7 separate regions of the Homo sapiens genome follow, and regions 2, 3, 4, 5, 6 and 7 are each reported to be linked to region 1. The links are microRNA targets in miRTarBase. Many come from high-throughput screens and were not tested one by one. Region 1 holds a microRNA gene; each other region holds the end of a gene's coding sequence. Distances are between the middles of the regions.
What was found. The annotated mature microRNA hsa-miR-6832-3p reads ACCCUUUUUCUCUUUCCCAG and lies in region 1 at 2,596-2,615, opposite strand. An mRNA with a match to its seed (bases 2 to 7 or 8) in the 3' UTR can be bound and repressed. Matches are read on the target gene's strand: a 7mer-m8 pairs with bases 2 to 8, a 7mer-A1 pairs with bases 2 to 7 and ends in A, and an 8mer does both.

Region 1 (4,073 bases):
ATCCCCCAATATCTAATACCTGCCCCCCTCTTACCTGAAGCAACGATGTGTCAGGCAAAGGACTGGGGCAGAAAGCCGGAGAGTAGAGGAAGGAAGGTGGAGGGTAGAGAACTCCTCCAGCCGGCAACTTCCCCAGCTCTGTAGCTTGCATTGTGGAGAAATCCAGAAACTGGCCCTTGAGAGCTAACCCAGAGAGCAGTGCTGAGGGAGGGGCTGGGCCGGGGGGTAGGTATAGGGGCTGTGATCTGAAAATAAATTGTGGGGAGAAAAGCTGTTAGGAAGCCAGAGTCCTAGCAATGCCTTAAGTCCACTAGCTTCTAGTACCCTAGAACTGTGTCTTCCCCTTCCCTCTCCCCGAAACACATCTCCAAGTACTTCTGTGATCCACAGGCATCGAGTCTTACCTGTAAGGGTGCAGTGAGGGTGTCCCAGGGCGGAAGCCTCCACTGTTTGGATGTAATTGAGAGTCCATGGCTCCCCCAGAGATCTGCAGGAGAGGAGCACGGTTGAAACAGCTTTAGTATCTGTGGTCAAGAAAAAAGATCACCATCCCACCCATAGAAGCAAAAAGTAGGGAGAAAAATGATGTGACAAAGTGGTATCTCACAACTCTGCAACGTAGAAAGGCTTGATTATAAATACATACCAGGCAGAAAAAAATTATTATTCACTGAAGGGGTCATGCAATGGGAAGCGGGGCCTACCTGAGAACTGGAAGGCCCAGCACTGCCATAGAAAACCTCAGGATACAGGCGCTGGCCTGAGGAGCTGGGCTCCGGGACACAGTGCCCAGAATCCAGGTTCTTGGATTGTGGCTCAGCAGAGGCAGCAGCACTGGGAAGCAGCTCCCAGTCTCGTGATACAGGAATGGCCTGGGAAGGAGAGGCCTCGTGGAGAGGGATGTCTGGCATCCTGGACGCCCTGGTCACTCCCAGCAATCTTCCCCAGAAATCTTGGGCCTTTCCACCAAACTCTTACTCCCACTTACCTCAGTGACTGATGCTGTTAGCTCCTTCTCTGCTTTCAAGCTGTCTCCTACCACTAGGCGTAAGTCTGAGTCCTGTGATCACAAGAAGGCAGGAGACATTGTCCCGTGACAGACATGTGTCCTCTATGTCCCACCTTTAGTCCTTCCCTTCTCTCCACCCAACTCAGGATACCCAGATCCAGCCCACACAGACCTTGTCACTAGTGCCAAACTGGACTGGGGGACCAGGTCGATGGGATGGCCGAATGGGGCCAGGCTCTGTGCCTCGGTCTGTACGCTGTGATCGTTCTGTGCCAATGGGGCCAGGGGGCAGAGGCTGCTCCCGGGGCAGCTCCTGGATTGGGCACACAGTAAAGTGCATTGGGGGAGGGAAAGGGAAATCCAAATTGGAATGCCCAGAACACACACGCAGAGAGAAAAAGCAGAAAAAGGTAGGGCCAAAGTCAGATTCCTGGAAACATTCCCCTTATCCTTTTTTGGTCTTTTACCTTTCTGTCCCCATCGTGGGGGGCAGGTGGTGGTCTCCTAGGAGGTTCAGAGCCAGGTGGACCCTCACAAGGAACAGCATTCAGGGGTGAGGAGCCTCCAGGCCTCTTGGGGGGTCCCTCTGCTGCCCCCTTGAGTCCTCCATCAGGGGAACTTCGCTGGCTGCAGGGACCTGATGACACCTGAGAATCCCCACTCAGGTCCACCCCACTGTCAGACTGACTCATCTGAGAGGAGTGGAGAAGGAGCTAGTTAAGTCAGGGTAGAAAGCACCCCAATACCTGACTGATGCACACATACAAACTGCAGAAAGGGGACAGCCAAGTGAGAGAACAGCTCCAGACTCAACCCAGAGCAGGTGGGGGGTATGACCAGTGCTCAAAAAAGTCCCAGCTCAGACACACCCTCCCACCCTCACTCACTTCTGTGCCAGCCACATCCTCAAAAGGACTCAGGGGCTCCATCCAAGGCTCCATGGAGCTGGGCCGGTAACTCTTTCGGCTAGTGGCTGGAGAAGGGAGCACCAACCAGAAGAGAAGTGAGGAGATGACAGTTCAGAAGCCCCTCTCATTCTTAACCCTTCTACCATAGTCCTTTCACTCAGCTTTACTCACCAGTATGTAAACGGTTCCAGATGTGAGGGGTCAGGGCCTCTGTGCCTGTATCTCTGGACTCTGCCTGAGGGCCTGGGCCCTCAGGCTTAGAGCCCAAGAATCCAGAGCTATGAGGAGGTGGCAAAGATTCCTACAGATGAGAAGGGCCAGAAGCAAAACATGAATTGGGTGGGAATTGGGAATTATAGGAAGCCAGGACAGAGTGGGGTGACACAGGGTGTGGGGACAACAAGGGAGACACATGGGAGACTAATACTGAGAATTCTGGAGTAAAAACACAGTGAAAGAAACAGGAAAGAAAACAGAGAAAACATAACCCAGAAGAATTTTCACGAGTAAGAGTGCAGTGAAGCACAATCTCAAACCCATCCCTTACCTCCTGTAGCAGCTCTGGTTTTCTGGGAGGCCGCTCCCGACGTTTAGGGGGAAAGGGACTAACCCCGGCAGAGTCCCGAGGAGTCCCACCCACCCCTCTCACCATTGGCCCCGGCTCCTCAAAGTGGGGGTCTGGGAAAGAGAAAAAGGGTCAGCATCTGCCTGGCTCTGCCACTGACCCTAACTTTTCCTCTCTACTCCACCTCCCAATTCTTCTACCCTTGCTCCCTGCAGAAACGCACCCAGCAGCAGGGTCCCTAGGCCAGGTTCTCCACCCGCTCCCTCCAGCACTTGACCTTCTCTGGGGATGGAGATATTCCCACCCATAACCCCTCCAGCTTACCAGAACTGAGGCCGCTGTTGACCCTCTGGGGCTCGTATCGGGTTGGGGGCCTAGGAGAGGGGCCCTGAGGGGCTTGGGGAAGCCCAGGCTTGTGCCTTGGATGACCCCCTGGTGCAGTTACACTCCCTTGACGGCTACTAAGCTGGGCCAGAGCCTGTTGGATGCCAGCAGGGTTGCTGTGGATAACTTGGTCCAGGCGGAAGACAGCAGAACTGCTGGGAGGTGGGGGAGGCAGGGGAAGCCCCGGGGGACGCTCCTCTGGAGGACGACTGGAGAAAACAGAGCATTAGCTCCAGTATCCACTAAATCGTTACTTTTTCCCACAAGTTATGTTTCCCAACTTCTGCTTACAACCTATTCTCTTCCCTATTAAAGTCCAGGTGTTTTTGAGTCCTTCTAAGGATTCCTATGCATACAGATGCACAGACTGGAAAGCAAAGAACCAGCAATGAATACATAGGTGGGTGTTCTTGACTCTAACACCCTACCAACCGCTTTCCAGTTGCCTTAGCCAGACATGGAAATCCTACTGACATTCTAGAGCCCATGGCCCCTCAGGCCACAATCTCCACTCCACCCAAACTTATCTTTCCCTCAGGCTTTTTCCCCCTCCTCCAATTTTTAAACCACAATAAATTTGTTTGTTCCTACCCACCTTCGGTTCTTGGGAGAGGGCCAGCTCCTCTTGTCGCCTCGTCCTGGCCCGGTCCTTCCTCCAGGACCCCCACCGCCTCCTCCACTGCTGCTGCCACTGCTGCCAGCCTTGCCCCCTGGGCCAGGGCGCCGATTCTGCCGTTCCATGCCTGGCCGCTGACTTGAGAAGCTCCGTTTACTCAAATCCTTGGCTCTCTGGCTCAGATCTCCGCGGGACATGGCTGAAATACCTGGTACGGCTCCACCTCCACCTCCCCCAGGAGTTCCCACAGCCTTGGGTGTCAGCAGTACTGGTGGGGGTGCCTCTTTGTCCCCTCGGCGCTCACTGGTGAAGTCACTGCTCTCTGATGCAGTCTCCCATTCCTCATTGGCTTGGTCTGAGTTCTGGTTTGACAGATCAGGAGACTTGGCAGCTGCCCGGCGAGGTGCTGGGGCCACTGTGACTGTTGTGAGGGCCTCCTCAGGTCCAGGAGCGGAGGCTGGAAGGGTTAGGGAGGGCTTGCCCTCAGACCCCCTTGCGGCATTCTCCCGTTCCTGCTTCAGCCTCCGGAAACGAGGCGGTTTATCCTGCTGCTGAGCCCTCCCATGTCGCCTCCTTCGGGGTCGCTCCCCA
Region 2 (4,071 bases), not on the chromosome of region 1:
TGTTAGGGGAAGTCAGAAGAGTTCTGTTTCTTGAGCTGAACCACTATGTTACTGGCAGTCAGGAGGAGGGAGAAGGGTTCGTCTCTTGAGCTGGTGATGGTTGCACAGCGGTATTTGGTTCATGGAAACATTCATTAAGCTTACATATAGTTAAGACTTGTGTACTTTGCATATTATATTTCAACTACAAATTGTAAAGGAAAACACACTTCAGCAGCTTCCCTTCATACTTGGAATAAAATCCAAACCCTTGCTCTGGTCTGCAAGGACCCTCGTGATCTGGCCCCGCCTGTGTCTCCAGCTCCATCTTCCTGGTTTTCTCTGACTTTGTCACACTCTGGTCACACTGGCCATCTTTCTGCTTCTCCAGTGATCCAAGCCCTTTCCTGCCCCAAAGGCCTTTGCCCGGGCTGCTGCCTCTTCCCCTGTTTCTGAACGGTCAGGTCTTCATACCGTCTATCTCTCAGCTAAATGTCCCCTGGGAAAGGCCACCCTGAGTTACTCAGTATCCCAAAAGCTCTCCAATTTCCTTCATAGTACGTCTCCTTCTGTTTTCTGTATCTGGTCCTTTTTTTTATTTTTATTCTTTTTTTTGAGGCAGAGTCTTGCTCTGTCGCCCAGGCTGGAGTGCAGTGGCGTGATCTCGGTTCACTGCAACCTCTGCCTCCTGGGGTCAAGCAATTATCCTGCCTCAGCCTCCTGAGTAGCTGAGACTACAGGCGCCCGCCACTGCACCCAGCTAATTTTTGTATTTTTCAGTAGAGACGGGGTTTCACCATTTTGGCCAGGCTGGTCTTGAACTCCTGACCTCATGATCCACCCACCTCGGCCTCCCAAAGTGCTGGGATTACAGGCGTGAGCCACCGCGCCCGGCCTGGTCCTTTTTTTTTTCTTCAGGCGGAGTCTTGCTCTGTCGCCCAGGCTGGAGTGCAGCGTCTACCTGTTCGTTGCTGCATCCCCAGGGCTTGGTATTCTGCTGGGTTCATGGGAGGTGCTGAAGAGGTACCTGCTGGGTGGAGGTTACAGTGAAGGCAGCCAGACCAGAGACAGGGAGAGCCTAGCAGGCAATGTCAGGGATCCCAGGAAGTGAAGACGAGGCCCAGACTGGGGCACTGGGAGCTGCAGTGGAGAGGAGGGGAACGCTGAGAAAGACTTGACAAGTGCTGCAGGGCATAGTGGCTCACACCACTCTGGGAGGCCGAGGCGGGCGGATCACCTGAGGTCAGGAGTTCGAGACCAGCCTGACCAACATGGCAAAACCCGGTCTCTACTAAAATACAAAAATTAGCAGTGCGTGGTGGCGCATGCCTGTAATCCCAGCTACTCGGGAGGCTGAGGCAGGAGAATTGCTTGGACCCGGGAGGCAGAGGTTGCAGTGAGCCGAGGTCGCACCGCTGCACTCCAGCCTGGGCTACAGAGCGAGACTCTTTCAAAAAAATAAAAAGGACACACTTGACAAGACAAAAAACACTGTGTTTATCGTGTCCCTAGAGCCTAAAGGATCTGTCCTGAGCTCCTCTCTGACTCCTACTCCTCCTCCCACTCACTCTCTCCACTCCAGCCCCACCGTCCCCTACTTGTCTTGAGCTCCTCGGCAGGACCTCTGCACATGCCGTTCCTCGGCCAGGCCACGCTTCGCCGGGACCTCCATAGTGCCCTCCTTCTTCCCCTTCAAGGCCGTGCTCTCGTGTCACCTTCTCACAAGGCTTTTCCTCCCAGCCCCGCCCCCTCCCCCACTTCACTTTCACCATTGCTCTCCGGCAGCTCATCCTCGGACAGACCATGTATTTCCCTTTGTTGATTTACTATCTCTCTCTCCACACGGCTCGTTTGCAAGAAGCAAGACTCCATGCCAGGCCTCTCTGACTTCCAGGGGCTTGCTCTTAACCGCTGCACATTAGGGCTCCAGGTGGCCGCTGCCACGTGGACCCCCTGCACCTCCAGCAGGGAAGCGTGCCCACCCACATGGTCACCCACGCTGCCCCAGCTCCTGGGCTCTGGCACAGAGGAAGGTGTCAGCCCTGTGCCAAGGTTTCCCCACCTGCTTCCCCCAAATCCTCAGGCACTGACTGTCTCCAGCTGGAGCTGGGTACTCCCGGCAGCCTGCCCCCGGCTGGCGGGCACCAGCTCCTGGCAGAGGGGCTGGTGTGTAATTAGAAGCTCCACAAACTCCCTAATTGCCAGTTCTTCTCCCAAACCAGGAGGCTGGCGCTGTTCTGAGCCGCCCTGTTGCCGGCTGCCTGAGGCATAGAGAGAAGAAGAAGCCAGGAGCAGAGCCAGGCTGGCGTGGAGGTGTCCCGGGGGAGGGCTGGCGAGGTCAGAGGGGACCACGGGGTGGAGGATGCCTGGCGAGCGGCCAGAGGCCAAACGTGGCACTGCGCGGGCTGCCACCCCTGCTGGGCCCAGGGTTCCTCAGCACAGTCCACCCTGCGGCCGCCTCCCTGCCTTCCCCACCATCCTCACTTGTCCCCACCCATGCCCAGAACGGTGACATCAAACCAGCCAGGCCCATTCATTCTTTATTCAGGTGGCATAAAAATCACTACAAAAACCTTACAAAAGAGCCTTAAGGAGCTCATGGGATCCTTCCCTGCCTCGGTTCCTGAGCTCCCGGGCAGAGGAGGGAGACAGGAGAGGAAGGAAGGGAAATGCTGGCAGTGTTGGGATCTCGAGGAGCCGTGGGAAGTCTGGCGTGACAAGGCACAGGGGGTAGGATGGAGGCTGATGGACTCTCGGCAGGTTAGGCCACAGCCAGGCTGTGCCAGACACGAGTTCCACGCGGGGCTGAGGACAACGCTTCGCCTCCCGAGCCACCACCAGGGCCCGTCTCTCCCCACCCTAGCCTAGGTGTCCCGGGACAAGTCCAAAGGCAGCCCTCTCCCCCTCCCTTTTTCTCTGGTAAACAAAAGTCGGGGTGTCCCAGCTGACGTGGGGAGCAGCTAACCTGTCTCCTGGCAGAACTAGAAGCACCTCCCTCCTGCCCAGGCCCCGGTGCAGGACACCCTCTGAGCCTGTTTGGAAGAAAGATGAGGGTCAGGCTCCCGGCTCCCCGATGCCTGCCCTCCTCCCAGCCGCGCCCCCCCCCCACCCTAAACTCCCCAAGAGGTGTTGGGAAAGAATGGCCTCTCTCAGACTGCCCCCGGCCCCTGCCCCAGTGCCACAAAGCCGGTTGGAAAGAGTCACATGAGTGGAGAGGCTGGTCCAGGCAGGGACTCTGGATGCCACAGCCACGGCCCCTCACTTGGGGCTGCCAAACTGGGGGTAATCCTCCTCCATGGGGGGCACAAGTTTTAAGTCAGGGCCGAAAAGCTTGTCTCCGCGGGGGAAGCCTTTCAGGCTCTGGAGGAAGTCCTTGTTGCCCGGGGAATCCTGCTGTTCCTTGAGCTCCCGCGGTGCACTGGGGTTGGGGTTCCTCACGCTGCCCACGAAGAGGGGAAGGCCTGTGGTGTCCTCGAAGATGAAGAAGAGGAAGGGGCGGTTCACGCTGAAGGAGGACAGGGACATGCGGGACATGGCAATGCTGGTGGCCGCCGCCGCCTCCACGCCGACCTCGCTGAGCTCCAGGGTGGACTGATGCTGCACGCCGGACACCACCAGGCTCTGCTCGGAGATCCCACGCAGGTCTGGGGCCTGGAACAACTCCTGCAGGCCTGCCCAGGGCCAGAGATGGCTGGTCAGAGCTGCCCTTGGCCTCACAGGCTCCTGGAGCTGCTTGGGAGGGTGTCTGAGATCCTGGCCAGGGAACAGCTTGAACTCACAGATACCTGCTTCATTCCTATCCGGTTTCCAAGACTCAGCTTAAACACCACCTCCTCCAGGAAGCCTTCCCTGATCCCCAGCTCTAAAGTCCAACCAAGGTACATTTTCAGTGTTCTCCCAGGTGAGCTGGAGAGAAGCCCTCTCTGTCTTATCGCTTATGCTGTAGTAAGTATGTGATTGCTCGTCTGCCCACCCCATTAGACTCAGCTGTTTGTACATGGTGGGCTCCCGGTACCTGGTACAGTGCCTGGAATACAGCAGCTGCTTAGCAAATGGCTGAAGGATAGATGCTTTATTTATTTATTTTAGTTA
Region 3 (4,073 bases), 27 Mb from region 1:
AGAACAGTACTCTTAATAGGAGGGAAAGGATCCTTAAACGCCTGTGGGGTTTTTTGTTTTGGGTTCTTTTTGTCTTAAAGACCTCCCAGAATGAGGGTGGGAACAGCTGAGGTTTGTTTCATGTGTTGTATATTAGTTAATCCTTATGGAGTTCACAGTGTGACATCAGGAACTTATCACACACCTCTTGATTTTCAAAAATTAAAGCTAAGATCTAAGCTTTATTAGAATATCAGAAATACTACTTATCCTGAATAAATTTTTTAAAATGCAGACATTCCTAACTCTCTTTTAAAACTCTGTTTAACAACTACCTTTTTTTCAGTCACTACTTTGATGAACCGAAGTTAGCTCCATGGGTTACACTGTCCGTTCAAGGCTTTGCAGACAGCCCTGTTTCTTGGGAAAAAAATGAACATGGTTTTCGAAAAGGAGGAGAACATTTATATAACTTTGTGATTTTTAATAATCAGGACTATTGGCTTCAGATGGCTGTTGGGGCAAATGATCACTGTCCACCATAAAAAATAAAAATTAAAAATCGTGTTTACTTACATTTACGCTTGCTTTCAGATTTCTTAATGGTAAAAGGTCTGTGTGTCCACTCAGGCTTGTGTGATGGTGACATTTCTCAGATCAGCATTTGCTGGCATCCTGCCCTGCACCTGAGACCCATCTGTGATGGCAGCAAGGCCTGCTGTCCAGTGAATAGCTCATAGTTGATTTCTCTCTGTCAACATAAGCACAGGGTTGTGGGTTACTATGTGGTACACTGGGCCAGGATGTCCAGGGACCGGGGATATTGGTCCCCATCTCACTCCATTGGTTGAGATATATTTTGTTCATTACAACTTTTTCAGATAATAAAAAGAAATCTCATCCTTACCAGGGCCAGTCCCTGTTGTAAGTGCTGTTTATATATTACCATGTTAGAATCTCACACCAACCCTTTGAGGAAACTGAGGCACAGTGTGTAAATACACTACCGAAGTTATAGTGGCAGTGGACCTGAGACTTGATCTCAGGCCAGCCTAGTTCCTAAGTGTGTTCTCACGCTAATGCCTCTGGATCAGAGAGGGATCAATGGATACTGTAAATCGTTACAGAACAGGTTGAAAGAATTTTATTTCCAGCAGTAAGGCTGATAAGGACCAGTTGAAAACAACTAAAACTTTAGAATACATATGAAGAACCATTTTTTTTTTATTATACTTTAAGTTTTAGGGTACATGTGCACAACGTGCAGGTTAGTTACATATGTATACATGTGCCATGTTGGTGTGCTGCATCCATTAACTCATCATTTAACATTAGGTATATCTCCTAATGCTCTCCCTCCCCCCTCCCCCCACCCCACAACAGGCCCCGGTGTGTGATGTTCCCCTTCCTGTGTCCATGTGTTCTCATTGTTCAATTCCCACCTATGAGTGAAAACATGCGGTGTTTGGTTTTTTGTCTGAAGAACCATTTTTTTAATGTAAAAAACAAGAGCTGCAAAATAAGAGTTCTTAAAGGGAAAAAAAAATTTTTTTTTTTGTAAATGGAAGCAGAAACCCAAAGAAGTAAGTGGAGTACTGACGCCACTTTTCCGCCTTAGTGCATCTGCCAAATGCCAAATTGAAGTTTTCTTCTCATAGCCTGGGGTGGGAAGGGGCTGCAGAACAGCACACAAAGCTCAGGGCCTGCCCAAGGGAGGAAAACTAACAGGAGACCTCATAAAGTGAGACTCCAAAAGGATAGATGCAATGTAGGGGTAAACTAGGAATAAATCCATCTGCTTCACCCATCCCCCCAACCCCTGTGAACAGCAAGGAAGATTTCTGTCCTGGGGGAAAACATCTTACTTGAGAGCCTATATATAACCACAGGATTTATATATAACAGCAGTTTTTAGGGTGGCTTGTTTGCACCACCTGGATAGTCTTAAAAAATCTCAAGAGGGAAATTTCAAGTGATAACAGGATTTTACTGCCTTACAGGTAACTGGCAGAAGCAAAACAGATTGTCTTTGGAGGAACTCGGAGAGTTTCAAGGAATGTAAGTTCATAGAAAAAAATCACAAGTGTAAAATAGACAAGAACCAGCAGAAACAAGGGGCAGAAGCAGGCCGTTAAGTCTCAGAAAGACTTAAGATGTTAAAGTTAGCAAGCACATCCATAAAGTATGCTTTATGCTTACAGAAATAAGGAGGGTTAAATGGCATGAGTATAAGAACAACGAAGCAGATTGTAAAAAGTGCCAAACAAATCTAGGAATGAAAAATATAATTGAAATTGCAAATTCCACTGGTTGGTTTAACAGCAGACTAGACGCCACTGAAAATAGAATAATGGATATGAAGAAATTAAGATCTTTTCAAATTTGCAAAAGCTGAAAGACTGTCACCCACAGGTCTGCACTGCAAGAAAAGTTAAAGGATGTCCTTTGGGCAGAAGGAAAATGCCTGCCTTCTGAAGGAAATAAGCACTGGAAATAGTAACAACATGGGTAAATGTAGCATTTATTATTTAAACCTCTTTAAAAGACAGTTATTTAAATAAAAGTCATAGTGTAGGATTTATAATATATGTAAGAGTAAAATGGATGACCACAATAGCTTGAAGATTAGGAGAGGAGAATCATGCTATTGTAAAGTTCTCATACACAAGGTGACGTGCTACCATTTGAAGATAGAGTGTGATAAGTTACAGATATGTGCTGTAAACCCTAAAGCAGCTGCTAAAATGACATACCAAAAAATCATACCTATTAAACTATCAAAAGATAAAATGGAATTATTTTAAAAACTTGATTCATCAAAAAGAAGACAGAAAAAGAGGTAAAAGGGAATAAAGAACAGTTAGGATGAATCGAAGACAAGTAGCAAGATGAGAGACTCAACCTAAGCATATCAATAATCACATTAAATGTGAATAGTGTGAACACCACCAATTAAAAGGCATAGATTTTCAGACTGGATTGAAAAAAACATGACCTAATTATATTCTGCCTACAAGAAATGTACTTTAAATAGAAAGATACAAATACTTAAAGGATGGAAAAAAGATATGCTAACACTAGTTACATGAAAATTGAAGTGGCTATATTAATCAAAATAGAGCAAAAAGTAATTCCCAGCATATTAGTCAATTCTCGCACTGCCATAAAGAAATATCTGAGACTGGGTAGCTTATAAAGAAAAGAGGTTTAATTGGCTCACATTTCTTCTTCTTCTTTTTTTTTTTTTTTTTTTTGAGACAGAGCCTCCCTCTGTTGCCCAGGATGGACTGCAGTGGCGCAATCTCGGCTCACTGCAACCTCCACCTCCTGGGTTCAAATGATTCTCCTGCCTCAGCCTCTTGAGTAGCTGGGATTACAGGCATGCGCCACCATGCCTGGCTAGTTTTTTTTTGTTTCGTTTTTTTGTTTTTGTTTGTTTTTCTTTTTTTAGTAGAAACAGGGTTTCACCTTATTGGCCAGGCTGGTCTCGAACTCCTGACCTCGTGATCTCTCCACCTCAGCCTCCCAAAGTGCTGGGATTACAGGCATGGGCCACCACACCTGGCCTAATTGGCTCACGTTTCTGCAGGCTGTGCAGGAAGCACAGTGGGCATCTGCCTGGCTTCTGGGGAGGCCTCAGGAAAACTCAATCATGGCGGAAGGTGAAAGAGAAGCATGGCCAGAGCAGGAGGGAGGGGTGTGGGAGGTACCACACACTTTTAAACAACCAGATCTTGTGAGAATTCTATCACTAGAAGAGCACTAAATGGGGGAATCCACCCCCATGAGCCAATCACCTCCCACCAGGCCCCAACTCCAACACTGGGGATTACAATTTGACATGAGATTTGGGCAGGGACACAGACCCAAACCGTATCACCCAGGATTAAAGAAAGTTATTTCATACTGACAACACACACCTCATAACAAAGCTTCAAAACACATAAAGCAAGAACAACTAGAACTTCAAGGAGACATAGATCAACCCACTATTATCAGACGTTAATACCCCACCCTCAATAATTGACAGAACAAGTAGGCAGAAAATCAATAAGAATAATAAAGTAGACTTCAGCAATTTTATCAATCAACTT
Region 4 (4,000 bases), not on the chromosome of region 1:
GCTTCTTTGAGGAGCTCTGGGATTCCTGCCTGCCAGAGGGTGCTGAGAGTCGTGTGTGGTGTCCACTTGGGCCACAGGGCCTGGAGGGCTTGGTGTCCCGCCACCTGGAGCCTTTTGTGGTGGTGGCCCAGCCTCCTACCAGCTACTGTGTAGCAATCCACCTGCCCCCGGACTCAAAGCTGCTGCTGCGGCTGGAGGCGGCCCTGGCAGATGGAGTGCCTGTGGCCCTGCGGACCGATGACTGGGCCGTGCTGCCCCTGGCGGGGGACTACCTCCGTGGGCTGGCGGCTGCTGTCTGAGCCCCGGGAGACCAGGTGGGGGCAGGACTGTGGCCCTTGTGGGGGCCAAGGCACACTCCTGTAGCTCTGTCGCCAAAACCCTGCATTCCGCAGTGCCCTCGCTGGCTTGTTTTCTTTTGGGCCCCGGTTGGGAGCAGGCTCCTGGGGGTGAGGGTCTGTCTGAGTCTGTTTTTGCTGCTCTAGCAAGATCCCTGAGACGGGGTAAGTTATAATAAACAGAAATGTATTGGCTCAGAGCTCTGGAGGCTGGGAAGTCCATAGTGGAGGGCCCAGAGCCCAGTGAGGACCCTTCTGCATCTTCCCATGACAGAGGACAGAGTGACAGGAGTGAGGGGAGAGAGCGAACCCACTCCCAAGATAACGGCCTGAGTCCACGCAGGAGGGCAGAGCCCTCGTGGCCTGACCACCTCTTAGGGTCTAATCTTATACTGTTACAGTGGCAATCGCATTTCAACGTGAGCGTGGGAGGGGACAAACATTCAAACCATAGCAGGGTCATAGGCCCCAAGAAGGCTTCCAGACAGAACCCGGCACTGTAGAGCTACAGAGTTCCTTCTCACCCAGACACACTAGTGCTCTCCAGAATCTCTGCCCAGGAGGCAGGGGAAAAATCTCCTTTCTGCTTCCCAGAGAGGGTCTGGCCTTGCCCAAGGCCACTCAGTGATTTAGGAAGAAGGCTGAAGCTAGAGTGTGGACCTGACCTGTTGGACAGTACTTTTCTTTCTTTTTTTTTCGGGGAGGGGTTAAAGACAGGATCTCACTCTGGCGCTCTGGAGTGCAGTGGTGTGATTAGGGATCATTGCAGACTCTGCCTCTCAGGCTCAGGTGATCCTCCCATCTCAGCCTGCCTCCGAGTAGCTGGGACTACAGGTGTGAGTCACCACTGTATTTTTTGCAGACAGGATCTCCCTGTTTCCTAGGCTGGTCTCGAACTCCTGGGCTTAAATGACTCTTCTGCCTCAGCCTCACCAAAGTGTTGGGATTACTGGTGTGAGCCCCCACACCTGGCCGAGCCAGCGCTTCTCAACTCCCAAGGTTTGCAAGCTCCCTGCCCCAGGGAGCTCACGCCAGGCAGGCCAGTGGGCCTAAGCCAGAAACAGAAAGACAGCAGTGGCCAGGTGGAGAGCTTCCCAAGCTGTGCCGATTAGAGCCAGCTCTAGGAAGGGCCTGCTAATAAGGTCTAGGGTCTGAGACCAAGTTTTTTCTAATCTCAGCCCCTAAGAAACCTAATTTGTGCTTAGGAATCTTCCCAGGTAAGAAGAACTAGTTCCTCTAGTTGTTGTTTTTTTTTCCCAAACATGCAAACACTGAGGATTGAGCTGTGTGGGGTCAGCTGTGCTGCCAGGCACATGTACGTTGCCTCATTTCATCCTTGCAACAGCTCTGCAGGGCCCCGCAGATGAGGAAATCCGTAGGCAGGAGCGGTTGAGTGATTTTCCTAAGGTCACCCAGCTGTTTGGTAATAGTGTTTTGTCATCTGGTAGCAGGTTTCCATTACCATGCCATCAGAGCAGACCTCAGCCAGGGCCACAGAGGTCCCAACCGTCTCTGCCCTCTTCTGCTGCCCCTGCCTCATGGGCTCCCAGCCACAGGTTCCCCATGGGCCAGCTTTACGCCTCCTGATCCTTCCGATTGGGGCAGACTAGGAGAGGAAAGACGGGCCTGGGCTGGGTGCGGTGGCTCATGCCTGTAATCCCAGCACTTTGAGAGGCTGCGGCGGGTGGATCACCTGAGGCCAGGTGTTTGAGATCAGCCTGGCCAGCATGGCGAAACCCTGTGTCTAATAAAAATACAAAAATTAGCCGGGCGTGGTGGCGGGCGCCTGTAATCCCAGCTACTTGGGAGGCTGAGGCAGGAGAATTACTTGAACCTGGGAGGCAGAAGTTGCAGTGAGCCGAGATCACGCCACTGCACTCCAGCCTGGGCGACAGAGCAAGGCTCTGTCTCAAAAAAAGAAAAAAAAGAAAGGGCCTGGGACAGTGGTACTGTTAATAGGTGGAGTCAGGAGGCCTGTCTCAAACTTGAGATGTGGCAATAACTTGCTTTGTCACCTCGGCAAGTCATTTCCAAATCAGGAAGGGGTCAGTTTCAGGAAACAGAAACTTCTCCAGCTGTTTTTGGCAGAAGGGGATTTAAGGGAATCAGGGTACTTAAAGTACATGGGAAGGCTGGAGAAGTCGCCTCCAGGAAGCTCCCACTGGAGCTGGGATCAGAACGTACTGTCCTGCCTGCCATCCCCTGTAAGCACCCAGGAAGCTGGGCTTGGGCCCTGGGACATGGGGTGGGACTGCCACTCCTGCCTCCTGACACCCACAAAGCCAGAAGCGTGGTGCTGCTGCAGAAGGACTGAACATCTCCAAGGCTGGGCCCGCAGAGCAAACTTCCTTGGCCCTGTGTCCTCCATCCATATCCTTCAAAGGACACCTCATTAGTGGACTCCATTTCTCTCTTCCACGGAACTCCAGTGGCAAGGGAATCCAGAAACGTTTTCTTTTTGCCTGGAGATGCTAATCCTTAGCCTAAGAATAAGGAAACTGGTCCATGTAAGGACTGACCATCCTTTCACCCATCTGTCTGCCCACTTGTGCATCCATCCCATTTTATCCATCCATTCCTCCAGTTGTGGACACCAGATGACTTTCAGCTCCCCCTACCCCAACCAGAACTTTGCTGCAATGGCCATTCTTATATGCCCCTATGGACCCATGGGACAATTCTCTGGGATACATGCTAGGAGCAGAATTGCTGAATCATAGGGAATGCATGTGCTTAGCTTGGCTAAGCAATGTTGGAGTAAAAGCTTTTGGTTTTGCATCTTCTCAGCACTTCTAGGGAGGCACCAAAAGGGAGGATGGCACTGACTGAGCCCACCTGAGATAGCTCCTAGACCCCAGCCCTCTGTGTCCTCAGAATCACACACTGCTGCTCATCACTTCAGCTTCCCGAAGATCATGGCAATAGCAGCATGCCTGTAACTGTCCCAAGTACAACCAAAAATTCTTCCTAAAGAGAGGGAACCAAAGTCACACGGGTCACCTTGTCCACCTGTGTGGACGTTGCTCATGTTCACATACCCTTCCTTGCCTCCTTCAAGGCAGGTCTGGCCACAAGCCCAGCTCTGGCTAATGAAATGTGAAGGGAGTCAAGGGCCGGGGGCGGTGGCTCACACCTGTAATCCCAGCATTTTGGGAGGCCGAGGTGGGTTGATTACCTGAGGTGAAGAATTTGAGACCAGCCTGGCCAACATGGTGAAACCCGTCTCTACTAAAAATCCAAAAATTAGCCGGGTGTGGTGGCGTGCTCATAATCCCAGCTACTCAGGAGGCTGAGGCAGGAGAATCGCTTGAACCCGGGAGGTGGAGGTTGCAGTGAACTGAGATTGGGCCACTACACTCCAGCCTGGATGACAGAGCAGGACTCCGTCTCAAAAAAGAAAAAAGAAATGTGAAGGGGTCAGTTTTGGGGCAAAATATGTCATTGCCAGTGCTCAATTTTCCAGCCCTCTCTTCCTCTGCCATGACCGTTGGGGAAGTACATGTTGAGATGGAGGTGCTAAATAGTTGAGTCATAATCTCACCTGGATACGCTGTAACAAATGCCCTGGATTATCAAATCAGTTATGTAAACTAAAAATCCTAAAACCCCACCGACTGAACAGATGCCACCTCGTGGCCGAGGGAATCTCAGAAAAAACTTAAAAC
Region 5 (4,066 bases), not on the chromosome of region 1:
TGGGGCACAGCTGGCACCTGATGTGAGACTGCTCTATGTGCTAGCCATTGCCGCGCTTGGTGGCCTCTGCCTCATCCTGGCCTCCTCCCTCCTCTATGTGGCCTGTCTGCGGGAAGGCAGACGAGGGCGCCGACGGAAATACTCACTGGGTCGGGCCAGCCGGGCAGGAGGATCTGCGGTGCAACTGCAGACAGTCTCAGGCCAGTGTCCTGGAGAGGAAGATGAGGGTGATGATGAGGGGGCTGGGGGCCTGGAGGGCAGCTGTCTCCAGATCATCCCTGGGGAGGGAGCCCCAGCCCCACCACCCCCACCGCCCCCACCGCCACCGGCTGAGCTGACCAATGGCTTGGTGGCACTGCCCAGCCGGCTGCGGAGGATGAATGGCAATAGCTATGTGCTTCTGAGGCAGAGCAACAATGGAGTACCAGCAGGGCCCTGCTCCTTCGCCGAGGAACTCAGCCGCATCCTGGAAAAAAGGAAGCACACGCAGCTCGTGGAGCAGCTAGATGAGAGCTCTGTCTGAGCCCAGCCTCCCAGAACAAATGCTCTTCCAAGCCAGCCTATCTGTCCCAGGCTGGGCCACTGCCTCCCTAACACAGCCACCCTCCCTTCATTACCCCCACTCCATACCCTTCTCCCAACTTTTTGATGTCCCTGTAGGGCTGGCCAGTCAGGCCCAGCCAAAGCCCCCTCCTCAGTCTCCACAGACCCACATGTGAGCAGCCCAGGCCCATCGGTGCTCCTCAGAGGTAGGTGCTCCCTCAGGATCAGGTGCCCTGCAGACCCAGAGCCAGTTCCTATCCCCTAACCTAAACACTTATAGGTGAGGACTCCATCCTCCTGTTCCATTCATCTGCCCAAACCCTTTCTCTTTCTCCCAGGCAGGGCTCTGCAGGTCCATATGGGCTCAATGTCACCACCCTCTGCATGGCCCTGTGTGCTGGATGGTCCTGAAACCAGACAAGACCTCTGCCAGCCACCTAAGCCCTGCGTACATTCACATGCACACATGGAAGAATGTTTATCGGCTGGGCTGCAGTGCCCCCACCCTCACCTTCTCCTGGTGCATTCTTGTTTCATCCCTGCTTCTGGACTTGGGGTACCCTCCCAATTGCCACATCCTATCTGGTCCTCTTCCCCAGCCCCATGTGGTGACCTCTTTGTCAAGAGCTTGGGAACGGGCCAGCCTGGGGAGGTAAGACTGCATCACTCCCCTCCTCTCCCTTCCTGTGTGGCCCTTGTGAATCAGCCTCCCCACTCTCCTTGGTCATTCTCAAGAGTATGAGAGACAGAGCTCCAGGCATGTCCCATCCCCATGCACATGTGGTAACACACACCTGTATCACACATGTGCTTACATTTCCACTCACATGCACCTCTGAGCCTCCCTTGCTGTCTTGGACCTGTCTGTTGGGTTTAGTCCGTGGACATTTCAGAGGGAGATCCCCCTCCCATTTAACTGTCCTCACAGGCCCTTGCCTAGGATGGATGACCAACACTGCACTCAATGAGCCAGCCTCTCTTTTGGGGGAATCAAGCATTTGCTTCCTCTAGACTACAGCAGGGAAAGGGAGGAGAAATCTGATGTCTCAACTGGCACATGAAGCCCATTCTTGGAACTATGCAAAGGGCAGAGGCTGGGAGTTTGGACGCTTAGCTCCTACCCCTGTCCTACCTCACCGGGGCACTTTCAGGGGCCAGGGGCCTCTGAAGTCTCTAGGCCTATATGGGACAATCAATTCTGACTGAGCTCCCCCATTCCCCTCGGGTGAGGATGACTGTTATTTTTGTAGCTGAGAACGTGGAATCCCACGGGTTTTTACTGCCCTTCACCCAACCTCTCCCACCTCCACCCCACAATGAATGTATTTATTGTGAGAATGGCTACACTTCTTTAGGAATGCCCCCACTTACAACCAGGTGGGTGGAACAGGCATGTGACAGAGTGGGGAGCCTGGGCTCAGCTCCTCCCCCTGCCGTTGGTTAATAAACACCCTTTTTCCCCACAGCTATGACTAGTCTGCTTCATCTAGATGCGCCCACCCCTGATCACCAGGGGACAGGCTCCTGAGCCTATACAGAAGGTGATATCTGCCTCCAGGATTGGCTCTGCTCCCCAATACAACTATTTGCAGAGGAAATTGGGATCCTCCGCTTCCATCCTGACTCCTTGGCAGGCACACAGGCCTCTTTAGTAAGGTTCACACTATTCATTGATCATGGTGTTAGGGCATGACAAGAAAATGACAACAGTTCAAGAATTCTTACAGGGGTTTCTAGATTTTCATTTCCTGCCTCTCATTTCCCCACCATCCCCCCTTTTTAAACTAAGATTAGAAAATACTCATTAATATCAGCCTTCCTGCCCTTCCCCAAGGTTCTCAGCACCCCCCACCAGCTGGCTCAAGGGACATGGATTTTATTTCTGCACAAAGAGGGACGTGGGGGGAAGGAGATGTATAGCTAAGACCAGAGAAAGCTTGTCAGCCAGGACTTGGTCTGAGAATCACTCCCCTCTCCCTTTCAGGGGTCAGGCCTAGATTAATCACTTGGCCTTTGATACTAACCACCTGACAGTTGTTATATGTTCTGCGTCTAGTTTTAAAATAATGAAAACTGAGGCTTGTGCTTAACATATGCACACATTTTGAAGACAGACCTGAAATGTGACCTTGGATAAGTTTATTAACCTGTTTTATAAATCTGTATTCACACAGATATAAAGTGCCTAGCCCATCACAGCAGAGCTCTCCGTAGCTCAGTGGTTGTTCCAATAAGACATCAGGGATTCTTCAGAAGCCAGCCTTCAGACCTCTCACTGTGTTTTGAGATCATTATTATCAATTTGGATTTAAAAAACAAGGGCCCTGTAAAACCCTTGAAGTCTTCCTCATCTCAGGTTTTAGGGATGCCACTTGCATAAAAATGAGTGGTTCACAAGGTCACTGCCCCCAGAAGCAGGCACTGGAAAGAAACAGGCAGCTCTTCATTATCCCAAGCAGAACCTCTGTCAACTTGCCCATTGATGGGTTCCATTTGCCTGGGCTTGGAATCCCAAAGGGGAAGAACCACCTTTACCGGAGTAACAGTCCAAAGCCTGGGGCTGCAGTTGGTGGGGCAACTCTTCACTGTGCTTGCACCTGGGCTGGGGCAGGATCCTGAACCTCTCGGGGGCGTAGCCCGCGGAACGTGGTCGGCTTGTTGGTGAAGGGGTGCCACTGGCCCTGGATGCTAGGGTTGTCGGTGTGGAAGGGCTTGCGGATGCGGATCACGTCCAAGCCCGACTGGTCGGCCAGCTTCTGCACCAGCGTCGAGATCTCCTCGACCGACTTGCAGTGGATGCTCTCCTCGCGCACAGCCCCGTTAACTGGCAGAAGAGGGGTGAGAGTGGGTGGAAGCTGGCCGGTGCGACCAAGCGAGAAGGAGGATAGCGGGTCGAGCCCCTGATCCCGCCCTCCAGCCCGAGCCCGGCCCCACTCACGGTATTCGGCCACTACTCTGGGCACGCAGCACGGACGCGAGTTTACATATATTACGACCCCTGGATTCCGTCGGGCGAAGTCGATCACCTCCCGCTCCACGAACTCCCTAAGCGACCCGGGACAGTGAGCAGTATGACCCCTGACTGGGGGCGACCTACCCGGGGAGTCGTTGCCACCTCCACACCCACCCCGACCCGCGCCTGCGCACTTCCCTTGGCTCACCTGGCGCCGCGAGACGAGGCGCCGTCGCGGCTGACGCTGAAGCTCAGACGCTGCAGCTGCTGCACATAGCGACCCAGTCCGTTGTGGAGAACGCTGGCCAAGAAGCGGCTCGGAGTCCCGCGCGCCGTCATAGCTACAGCTTGGAGGCCGCGGAGCCTAAGCAGCGAGGAGAGGGGGGCGGGACTAAACCTCGAGGCTTCCGGTTCCGGGACGACCGCTCCCGGAGTTTTGCTTCCGAGGTCAAGGCGAGTAGCATGTGCGGGAGACTCACGTTGCCGGCGAAGTGGGAGAGAGAAAAGTGGTAACCTGGGGCTGGGGGCCGGCGCGGCGGAGCTCGGAGTAGTAGAGCGGAGTGAAGACAC
Region 6 (4,073 bases), not on the chromosome of region 1:
TGGGCAGGAAGGCTAAGGGACAGAGAATGTATGCCATTTTGGCAGGCCCATGCCCATTCAAGACCTGAGAAAAAGCCTGGCATTGATATTAGTACAACTCATAAAAGCCTTGAGGGCTTAACCTGTTACTGTGGTCTTAGTAGGGTGAGATCTCCATCCCTGCATATACCTTATGGTTTGTTGGCTCCCCCAAGAGGCACACTCTAGCCTGAGGTGTTTAATTAGGTTCCTGCTCCCAGCTGAGACAAGCCTGATGCCTAGAGGGCTAGAGGAAACTAGGCACTCGGGGAGCAGTGGAATGGAAGATGCTTATACCACCTTCTTCTCCCATCCTGGCCAGGTGGATGTCCGAAGAGAAGACCTTGTGGAGGAAATCAAAAGGAGAACAGGCCAGCCCCTCTGCATCTGCTGAACTGAACAAACTATCAGAGGAAAGGAAGTGGGACTGGCACTATTTGAGGTTAAGACAAACTGCATATGTACTTCAATTGCTTTGCACTTTTCCGTTTCAGCGGAAGACCTGAAGAGTGGTCAGAACAGAGCCTTTGATTTTTATTATGGTTATTTTATTGATTATTACTGGCAAAAACGGCCAGGTACAACACCTTTTTCATACAAGGCCCAGGAGGCTTAGTCCAGTCTGTGCTCCTGGGCTACAAGGACCCAGCCTGAGATGGTCCCATCTGCAGGGCCCCGCACCAGTTGGAGCAGATGCCTCCCCACCACCAATTGCCAAAGGTCCAATAAAATGCCTCAACCACGGAGTCTGCGTGTGTCAGTGATGCCTAGCCCCGCCTTCCCCAGCAGACCAATGTAGGGATGGAAAAGGGAGAAAAACAGTAAACTTGTGACCCTGAGGTTCTTGTCTCCAGCGTCCACCCTGCGGCTTGGGAGCTCCTCCTCGGGAGGCAGCCCCCGTACATACGCACCCGCGACTTTGCAGCTTTCACCTGAAGGTCTGAGCGAAGCCCGGGCGGCGCACGTGCAGTGGATACCTCCACCCCCCTGGGAGGCGGGGTCGCGCTCAGAGCCAATGAGAGCTTGCGGGGTGGAGGGGTAGGGAAGCTTCCAGAGGCCGGTGGGGAGGAAGTTATAAAGAGGGTACGAGGGGGCCAGCTGGAGAGCCATGCAGTCCAAGCGGGATTGTGAGGTAAGCGGCTGGCGACTTGGGGGCCGGCGAGCCCCGCCGGAGCGGGGGTCGGCTTTAGGGACCCCAGTACCACAGGAGAGGTGGGGGCGCGCTTGGCGATCCGCCATTCCAACCTTCCTTTCCCTCTCAGCTGTGGTGTGAGAGGGTGAATCCAGAGAACAAGGCGGCGCTGGAGGCGTGGGTCAGGGAGACAGGCATCCGCCTGGTGCAGGTGAACGGGCAGAGGAAGTATGGCGGGCCACCCCCAGGTACGGTAGTCCCAGCCCCTCCGCCTGTCCGGCTACACCAGCCCCCTTTGGGGGAGGGGCTGCTCCGAGCCTTCACTGTCAGAAACTGCGAACTACCCGGATTTATACCCCCCAGCAAAGGAGGAACTGTGGCTCCACGTCCACCCGCCCCGTCGAGGGAGGGGGCCAATCTCAAGGTGTACCTACTCTGTGCCAGCCCCCTTGTTAGCGCAGTCACCTAATTATGCCAACCACCCAGGGTACGGGTGTAAACCCATTTCACAGACCTTTGTTCACATCGCCTCCCACCCCCGCGCGCTGGGTCCGTGGGCTCAGAATTCGAAAGCGTCGCCTGACGGTGGCCTTGCATACCCTCTTCCCACAGGCTGGGTGGGCAGCCCGCCGCCAGCTGGGTCAGAGGTGTTCATCGGGCGGCTGCCTCAGGACGTGTACGAGCACCAGCTTATCCCGCTGTTCCAGCGCGTGGGCCGCCTCTACGAGTTCCGCCTGATGATGACCTTCAGCGGCCTGAACCGCGGCTTCGCCTATGCCCGCTACAGCTCGAGGCGCGGCGCGCAGGCCGCCATCGCCACGCTGCACAACCATCCGCTGCGGCCGTCCTGCCCGCTGCTCGTGTGCCGCAGCACCGAGAAGTGTGAGCTGAGCGTTGACGGCCTGCCGCCGAATCTGACCCGCAGCGCGCTGCTGCTCGCGCTGCAGCCGCTGGGTCCCGGCTTGCAGGAGGCGCGGCTGCTGCCCAGCCCCGGACCGGCGCCCGGGCAGATCGCTCTGCTCAAATTCAGCTCGCACCGGGCCGCTGCCATGGCCAAAAAGGCCCTGGTGGAAGGTAGGCTGGGGCGGGGGTGCTGGTTGGGGCCAAACGCGTTCTGCCCGGCACTTTATACTGAGCATAGCTGTTAAAGTTACAAGATCTTAGAGTCAAACATGCCAGAATTTGCAACCTTTTACTATTTGATCTCAGATTTTTAAAACTTCCAATGGTGCTACCACCACCGCTTACCTAAATTTGTGACACTTCCCGAGCATTACCTCCTGACTTAATTCTCAACCTTCCCCCACCCCCACACCGCAAAATAGGCACAGGACCCTCAAGCTATGAGGAAACTGTTAGAGAAATTGATTTGCTCAAGGGAATCCAACTGAGCTTTTTACTACTATAGAATCTGTTTCCTCAGACTGTTATGAGAATTAAGTAACATAATGGGTGTACGGTACTTAGCACACTGACTGACTTACAGCAAGTTTTCCCAGTAAAGATTAGCCATTATGATGGTTATGAGGCAGACAAAGCCTGCAATTAACCAGTACTTCTCCAAGGAAACTTGTAAGGTAGCAGTGTGTTATACTCCCTTTGCAAATAATGGAGGCTGAAGGCTTCATTGTCTTTTCTTACCCATGGTCACACTACCAGGAAATGGGAAGGCTACAAATAACAGGACTGTGTAGCTCCAAAGGGCTCACCACCTGGAGGCTTGGGCCCAGGGTTTAGACCTGCCCTTGTCTTTGCATTTTTCCTACAGGGCAGTCACACCTCTGTGGAGAGCAGGTGGCTGTGGAGTGGCTCAAGCCAGACCTGAAGCAGCGACTTCGCCAGCAGCTTGTGGGTCCCTTCTTGCGGTCCCCACAGCCAGAGGGCAGCCAGTTGGCTTTGGCAAGGGACAAGTTAGGGTTCCAAGGGGCTCGGGCTACCCTGCAGTTGCTGTGCCAACGAATGAAGCTGGGCAGCCCTGTGTTCCTCACCAAGTGTTTGGGCATAGGACCTGCTGGCTGGCACCGCTTCTGGTACCAGGTGGTGATTCCTGGGCATCCGGTGCCCTTCAGCGGCCTCATCTGGGTTGTGCTGACCCTAGATGGCCGGGATGGGCATGAGGTGGCCAAGGATGCTGTGTCTGTACGGCTGCTGCAGGCACTCAGTGAGTCTGGGGCCAACCTCCTGTGGTCTGCTGGGGCTGAGGCAGGTACCATGGTTAAACAGTGACTCCATTCTTTCTCCACAGGCACCCTGAATGGGCATGCAGAGCCTGTGTCAGGCCCCATCCCAGCAGGCCTGGGTGGCCACTTTCTGACCCCCAAAGGTGGGGAGGGGCATGGGCCCAGGCCCATCAGCCTCCCTGCTGGGACAGGGACCTATGGCACCTGGGGGCAGCTTAGGTTTGGGTTAAGTTGTGGTGAGGGGCCTTGCCCTCCCGCTCCCAGCCCAGGGTCCAACCTGACCCAGTGATCTTCCATGGCCGTTCCTTGTCCCACCCCCACCCGATCATACCTTCCCCCCTCTGCCACAGCTTAGCATGAATCTTCTTTATTGTCCTGATTTGTCCTCTTTGTTGGTTTTTATTTGTGGGGAAGGGCAGCTGAGCCAAAGGGGTCAGAAATTCTGCCCTTTGCCTCCACCACATGGCATTCTGGTTTTGGTTTCTGTATAGTTTTGGGTCTTTCTATGCTGGTTGTATTTATATTAAACCCCTGGTTAGTATATACTTGTGTCTGTGCTGTCTTGCCCTAGCTTAGAGTTTGTTTACACTGGTAGAGTGAATAGCTGCTACGGGGCAAGTACTTCCTCACATCAGTGCTTTGAGTGCATCTTCTTGTGTTGCACTGTAGGGTATTATAAATTCATATCCAGGCCGGGTGTGTTGGCTTTTGCCTGTAATCCCAGCACTTTGGGAGGCTGAGGC
Region 7 (4,073 bases), not on the chromosome of region 1:
AGAGTCCAGGTCCCCCCAGGAGAAGCTCCAGGGCAGAGGTGGTCGGTGCCATCCCTTTTCTTGGGCTCCCCCAGAGGAGGGATGGATGTAGGGCTGGAGAGTCAGGGACAGGGAGACGAAACGGCACCTAGGAGTGTCCGTGAGAGTCCGTGATCGGGCAGGCACAGAGGCACTCAGATCCCCGGCCTAGGGATGGGCCCCCAGACCACCTGGCGACCCCTCCACTCTCATCCTCTGTTTTTCTCTGAAGGACACTCTGGGTGGTGGGTTTGATGCCACCCAGGCATTTGTGGGTGAGCTGGCCCACTTCAACATCTGGGACCGCAAGCTGACCCCCGGGGAGGTGTACAACCTGGCCACCTGCAGCACCAAGGCTCTGTCCGGCAATGTCATCGCCTGGGCTGAATCCCACATCGAGATCTACGGAGGGGCCACCAAGTGGACCTTCGAGGCCTGTCGCCAGATCAACTGAGCACGGCAGGCCAGGCTGAGCCCGCCCGCCCTCGCCCCCTGCTTGTGCGGCGATGATCTGTTTTGTGCGTCTCTTCTCTCCCTTTTCCCCAGGAATGAACCGAGGCCGTCGCCCCTGCACACGCACACGCACACAGCCTGGTTTTGTCCTCATGCACACGAAGCAGCCCCTGCTCCCATCTGTCCCTGAGGAAGCCCCACTTCTCTGTAGGAGCCCGGACTCTCTCAGGCATGCCCCATTCACAGCTGAAGTGGGTGCTGCAACGTCTTGAACAAGGCAGAAGTTGGTGAGAGGATCTGTGTGTGCGTGTCTACATGTGTGTGTCTACGTGTGTGCGTGCGTGGCTGGGGGAGGCCTTTTCTTTGAGGACGTACCTCATTTCCTTCTTTCTTCTGGCTTTGGAAAAATCTCATGATGAAAATTCATATTTGCCAACTTTGTTAGCTGCGTGCGTGCTTTGGGGTTGGTGCAACCTCAGTACACGCATTTGTCTTTGTTTGCAAACCTTTCTCAGAGCGACATATCTTTATATTGATGTAATAAATGTCTTTTAGTGGTTTGTCAAAGGCCGGGGGCGGGGGCTCTCTACAGAGAATTTTTATTTTGTAATAGAAGTGAACTGTCTCTGAAGGGTGAAGGCAGGCCGTCCTGGGATGGTACCCTGTGCTCTCCCGTGGAGGAGAGGGGATGGCTGAGGACACTGGCCCTTACCCCAGGGCCAGACAGCATCCATCCCTGCTGTTTGCATCTGAGAGCAGCATGGGGCCTGGGAGGTCGGCCTGTGTGCCCAGCTCAGCTAGCTCTGCCCCAGGACGGCCCTGCCCTCGACCTTCCCACCTCCTCAGATCCTGCAAGGCTGGGGTCTGCCCCTCCCTTCTCACCTCTGGAGCTGTGCTGCACTGCTTCAGCCCAGAGGGCCCTGAGAGAGGAGCGTGCCACCCACAGCCCGGGAAGCCGGGCCCCAGCACCCCTCTCCTTTGGCCTCCGGCAGTGCAGACCAGAGGGGACCTTTTAAGGAAAGAAGCCGTGTTTCGATGAAGACCTGGCCACATGGGGCCACTGGGACTTCAACCCAGCCCATCGGTGGGAAGGTCCTTTTTGGGGGACTTTGACAGCCATATCCCTCCCAGCACACCAGGCGCCAGGTGAGCTGGTTCAGACCCCTCCAGGGGTACTCCAGAGACCTCACGTGTGGAGCCAGGCCTGGCCAGGGCAGGGGCCTGAAACCCACTCCTCCATCTCATGGGGCTCACGGCCTACAGCAGCCCACAAGCTGCCACTGGCCGGCGACACTGACACCTGAGCAGTGTCCAGAACCTTTTTGCCTTTTTTTGTTCCCCGTGAAAAGCAACATGGACATTTCCTTCTAGTCCTTCCAAGGAGGGGAGAGAAGTGTATGTGCATTTGTGTGTGTGTGTGTGTGTTGTGTGTGTGTGTGCGCTAAGTGAGAAAGAGAGCAGGCTCGGGAGGCCCTGCCCAGGGTAGGAGGAGCTTCCTGCTTTGCACCATCTGGTGGTCGCACGCCCTGAGGGCACCCCGACTCTGTCTCCAGGAGTCTCATCAGCAAACCGCTGACAAGTCTTTCTAGAAATTCTACTGCACTGCCTGGCTCAGCTGCAGCTGCAGACATTTCTGCAGGAGGAGCAGGTGTTTCTGTCTTCTGTTCCTTCTAGGGCCACCTGTCCCCTTAAACACAGGTCCACGTTGTGTCAAGAACCTAGTGCATCTGTGTGTGTCTGTCAGTGTCTCTGTGTCAGTGTTCTCGTGGGTGTCTGCACGGTACCCGGCCGCCGTTCTGCAATGCATCACTCCCGCAGAGGGGGGTGCAGATCAGGCGCCGTGCTGCGCGTTGTTGTTCAACAGTGGCTTTTTCTTAGATAATCGTGCTTCCTCAGCGCCCGTCGGGTTGTGGCATCCTTGGATCTGCAGGGATCTTCTCCGTTTGCATGTTCCTCGGGGTGGCGTGTTCCTTGCTCCCTGGGTCCGACATGTGTTCCCGCACCTGCATGGACTGCCCCGGTTCTGTGTTGTGTGCCGAGTGCCGCCCAGTGTTCTGTGACCACCCGTGTAGCTACTGAAAATGGCTGGGTAAGCAAGTCAAGGGTGTTGGAGGAGGTCAAGAGAGAGCTCAGTTTCCCTCTCCCCCTCCCCAAACACACCAAGAAGCATTTTTAACGTGTAGGTTGAGAACAAGCCTAAAGGATTCCCACAGCTGGGAGCCAGCAAGAGAGCTTGGAGTCGCCTCTCTAGACCAGATCTAGCCCCACCCTCACTCCAGCCATCTCGGAGCCCTTGTGTAGGCAACGCCCGGTGCGGGCTGTGTGGGGTGCTCCCCTGCCAGCACCTCCGGCCAGCCCCGCCCCTGCCGATCTACTGGACCGCAGACCACCTTCTGCCCCCGTGGGCCAGGTGGGAGCTGTCCGTTCAGGACCATGAGCCATCCTCTGCCCTGACTAGCGAGGGGCAGAGCACACCCCAGTGCTTACGCCTCCACCCCTGCAGCCTCCTGGCCCGCTCACCTTCCTCACCCCTCCTCTGACCCACCCATGGTGCCAGGGCCGAAGCTGACCTTTAGCTCCCTCCTGCCCCTTGCTAGGGTCTGAGCCAAGCCCCTCGACTCCCTCACTGTGTTGACACTTGGCACTTTGCTGGCCCCGAGAAAGGTCGATGACACAGCCGCAAATCTAATCCACGTAGTTCCCATTTACTCCTTAATCTGATTGATGTTCCCTCTTGCACTGAATAATACATGCCTCTCTCAGGTAAGCCATTTTATAAAACAAGAAGATAAAAAGCACTGTTGAGGCAGTGTTTGCTTTTGCCGAGCTGGTGTCCGACAGCTCCCTGGGTGTCCGGGGTGGGAGAGCTGTTGACAGAAGCTCTCCGGGCCCTCAGGGGCTTAGATCCCACTTGAGTCGTAAGCCTTCTTGCTTTTGATAACACAGTATTATTTCTCTTACTGTAGAAGAAAAAGTTTATTACCAAACAAGAGTATTTTTATGAAAGAAAAGGACAAACCTATAAATTAACTCAACCTATATCTCCCTTGAAAATACTTTCAGGCTCCACCAAAACGTAGAACTGAAAGCATGTATTTTGGAAGAAAGAGATACATTTTGTATGCTTTCTTTTCCTTTTGTAGATTCCCAGTTTATTTTCTAAGACTGCAAAGATCACTTTGTCACCAGCCCTGGGACCTGAGACCAAGGGGGTGTCTTGTGGGCAGTGAGGGGGTGAGGAGAGGCTGGCATGAGGTTCAGTCATTCCAGTGAGCTCCAAAGAGGGGCCACCTGTTCTCAAAAGCATGTTGGGGACCAGGAGGTAAAACTGGCCATTTATGGTGAACCTGTGTCTTGGAGCTGACTTACTAAGTGGAATGAGCCGAGGATTTGAATATCAGTTCTAACCTTGATAGAAGAACCTTGGGTTACATGTGGTTCACATTAAGAGGATAGAATCCTTTGGAATCTTATGGCAACCAAATGTGGCTTGACGAAGTCGTGGTTTCATCTCTTAAACACAGTGTGTAAATTTATTCAACTAACGATGGGAAATGTATTACTTCTGTACACAGTGGACTGAAGTGCAATTTGTTGAAAGG

Region 2: miRTarBase lists SERPINF2 as a target of hsa-miR-6832-3p. Seed matches in the 3' UTR shown: 8mer at 2,885-2,892.
Region 3: the mRNA of RPP40 is a reported target of hsa-miR-6832-3p. The part of its 3' UTR that is shown has no 7-base or 8-base seed match.
Region 4: the mRNA of AP5B1 is a reported target of hsa-miR-6832-3p. Seed matches in the 3' UTR shown: 8mer at 3,141-3,148.
Region 5: the mRNA of SEMA4G is a reported target of hsa-miR-6832-3p. Seed matches in the 3' UTR shown: 7mer-A1 at 1,567-1,573.
Region 6: the mRNA of HARS1 is a reported target of hsa-miR-6832-3p. The part of its 3' UTR that is shown has no 7-base or 8-base seed match.
Region 7: the mRNA of NPTX1 is a reported target of hsa-miR-6832-3p. The part of its 3' UTR that is shown has no 7-base or 8-base seed match.

What each region holds. Positions count from the first base shown.
Region 1 is chr6:31,632,381-31,636,453 of GRCh38, reverse strand. It overlaps MIR6832 (microRNA 6832), which reads right to left and starts at 2,667; the gene lies at 2,596-2,667. PRRC2A (proline rich coiled-coil 2A) reads right to left here. Exons shown (of 31, transcript NM_004638.4): 16 at 3,462-4,073; 17 at 2,807-3,075; 18 at 2,465-2,595; 19 at 2,089-2,218; 20 at 1,897-1,982; 21 at 1,477-1,701; 22 at 1,182-1,322; 23 at 989-1,060; 24 at 705-872; 25 at 405-487; 26 at 35-245. RefSeq lists a silencer at 1,612-1,775.
Region 2 is chr17:1,753,701-1,757,771 of GRCh38, reverse strand. SERPINF2 (serpin family F member 2) reads right to left here. Exons shown (of 10, transcript NM_000934.4): 10 at 2,507-3,650. The coding sequence ends at 3,238. Among named protein-coding and RNA genes, the nearest start is that of SERPINF1, 6.3 kb to the left of the region's middle.
Region 3 is chr6:4,991,529-4,995,601 of GRCh38, reverse strand. It overlaps RPP40 (ribonuclease P/MRP subunit p40), which reads left to right. Exons shown (of 8, transcript NM_006638.4): 8 at 326-885. The coding sequence ends at 524. Among named protein-coding and RNA genes, the nearest start is that of LYRM4-AS1, 10 kb to the left of the region's middle.
Region 4 is chr11:65,774,155-65,778,154 of GRCh38, reverse strand. It overlaps AP5B1 (adaptor related protein complex 5 subunit beta 1), which reads left to right. Exons shown (of 2, transcript NM_138368.5): 2 at 1-4,000. The coding sequence ends at 299. Among named protein-coding and RNA genes, the nearest start is that of AP5B1, 4.8 kb to the left of the region's middle. RefSeq lists an enhancer at 1-810.
Region 5 is chr10:100,983,609-100,987,674 of GRCh38, forward strand. It overlaps SEMA4G (semaphorin 4G), which reads left to right. Exons shown (of 15, transcript NM_017893.4): 15 at 1-2,008. The coding sequence ends at 523. MRPL43 (mitochondrial ribosomal protein L43) reads right to left here and starts at 3,889. Exons shown (of 3, transcript NM_032112.3): 1 at 3,705-3,889; 2 at 3,482-3,588; 3 at 2,661-3,367. The coding sequence starts at 3,835. The coding sequence ends at 3,126. It overlaps TWNK (twinkle mtDNA helicase), which reads left to right and starts at 3,935. Exons shown (of 5, transcript NM_021830.5): 1 at 3,935-4,066. RefSeq lists an enhancer at 3,648-3,717.
Region 6 is chr5:140,670,596-140,674,668 of GRCh38, reverse strand. It overlaps HARS1 (histidyl-tRNA synthetase 1), which reads left to right. Exons shown (of 13, transcript NM_002109.6): 13 at 341-764. The coding sequence ends at 412. It overlaps WDR55 (WD repeat domain 55), which reads right to left. Exons shown (of 7, transcript NM_017706.5): 7 at 2,324-4,073. It overlaps DND1 (DND microRNA-mediated repression inhibitor 1), which reads left to right and starts at 1,093. Exons shown (of 4, transcript NM_194249.3): 1 at 1,093-1,150; 2 at 1,281-1,398; 3 at 1,763-2,224; 4 at 2,919-3,875. The coding sequence starts at 1,127. The coding sequence ends at 3,376. RefSeq lists enhancers at 628-1,423, 1,424-2,219.
Region 7 is chr17:80,467,212-80,471,284 of GRCh38, reverse strand. It overlaps NPTX1 (neuronal pentraxin 1), which reads left to right. Exons shown (of 5, transcript NM_002522.4): 5 at 251-4,073. The coding sequence ends at 472. Among named protein-coding and RNA genes, the nearest start is that of NPTX1, 7.4 kb to the left of the region's middle. RefSeq lists an enhancer at 2,636-3,360.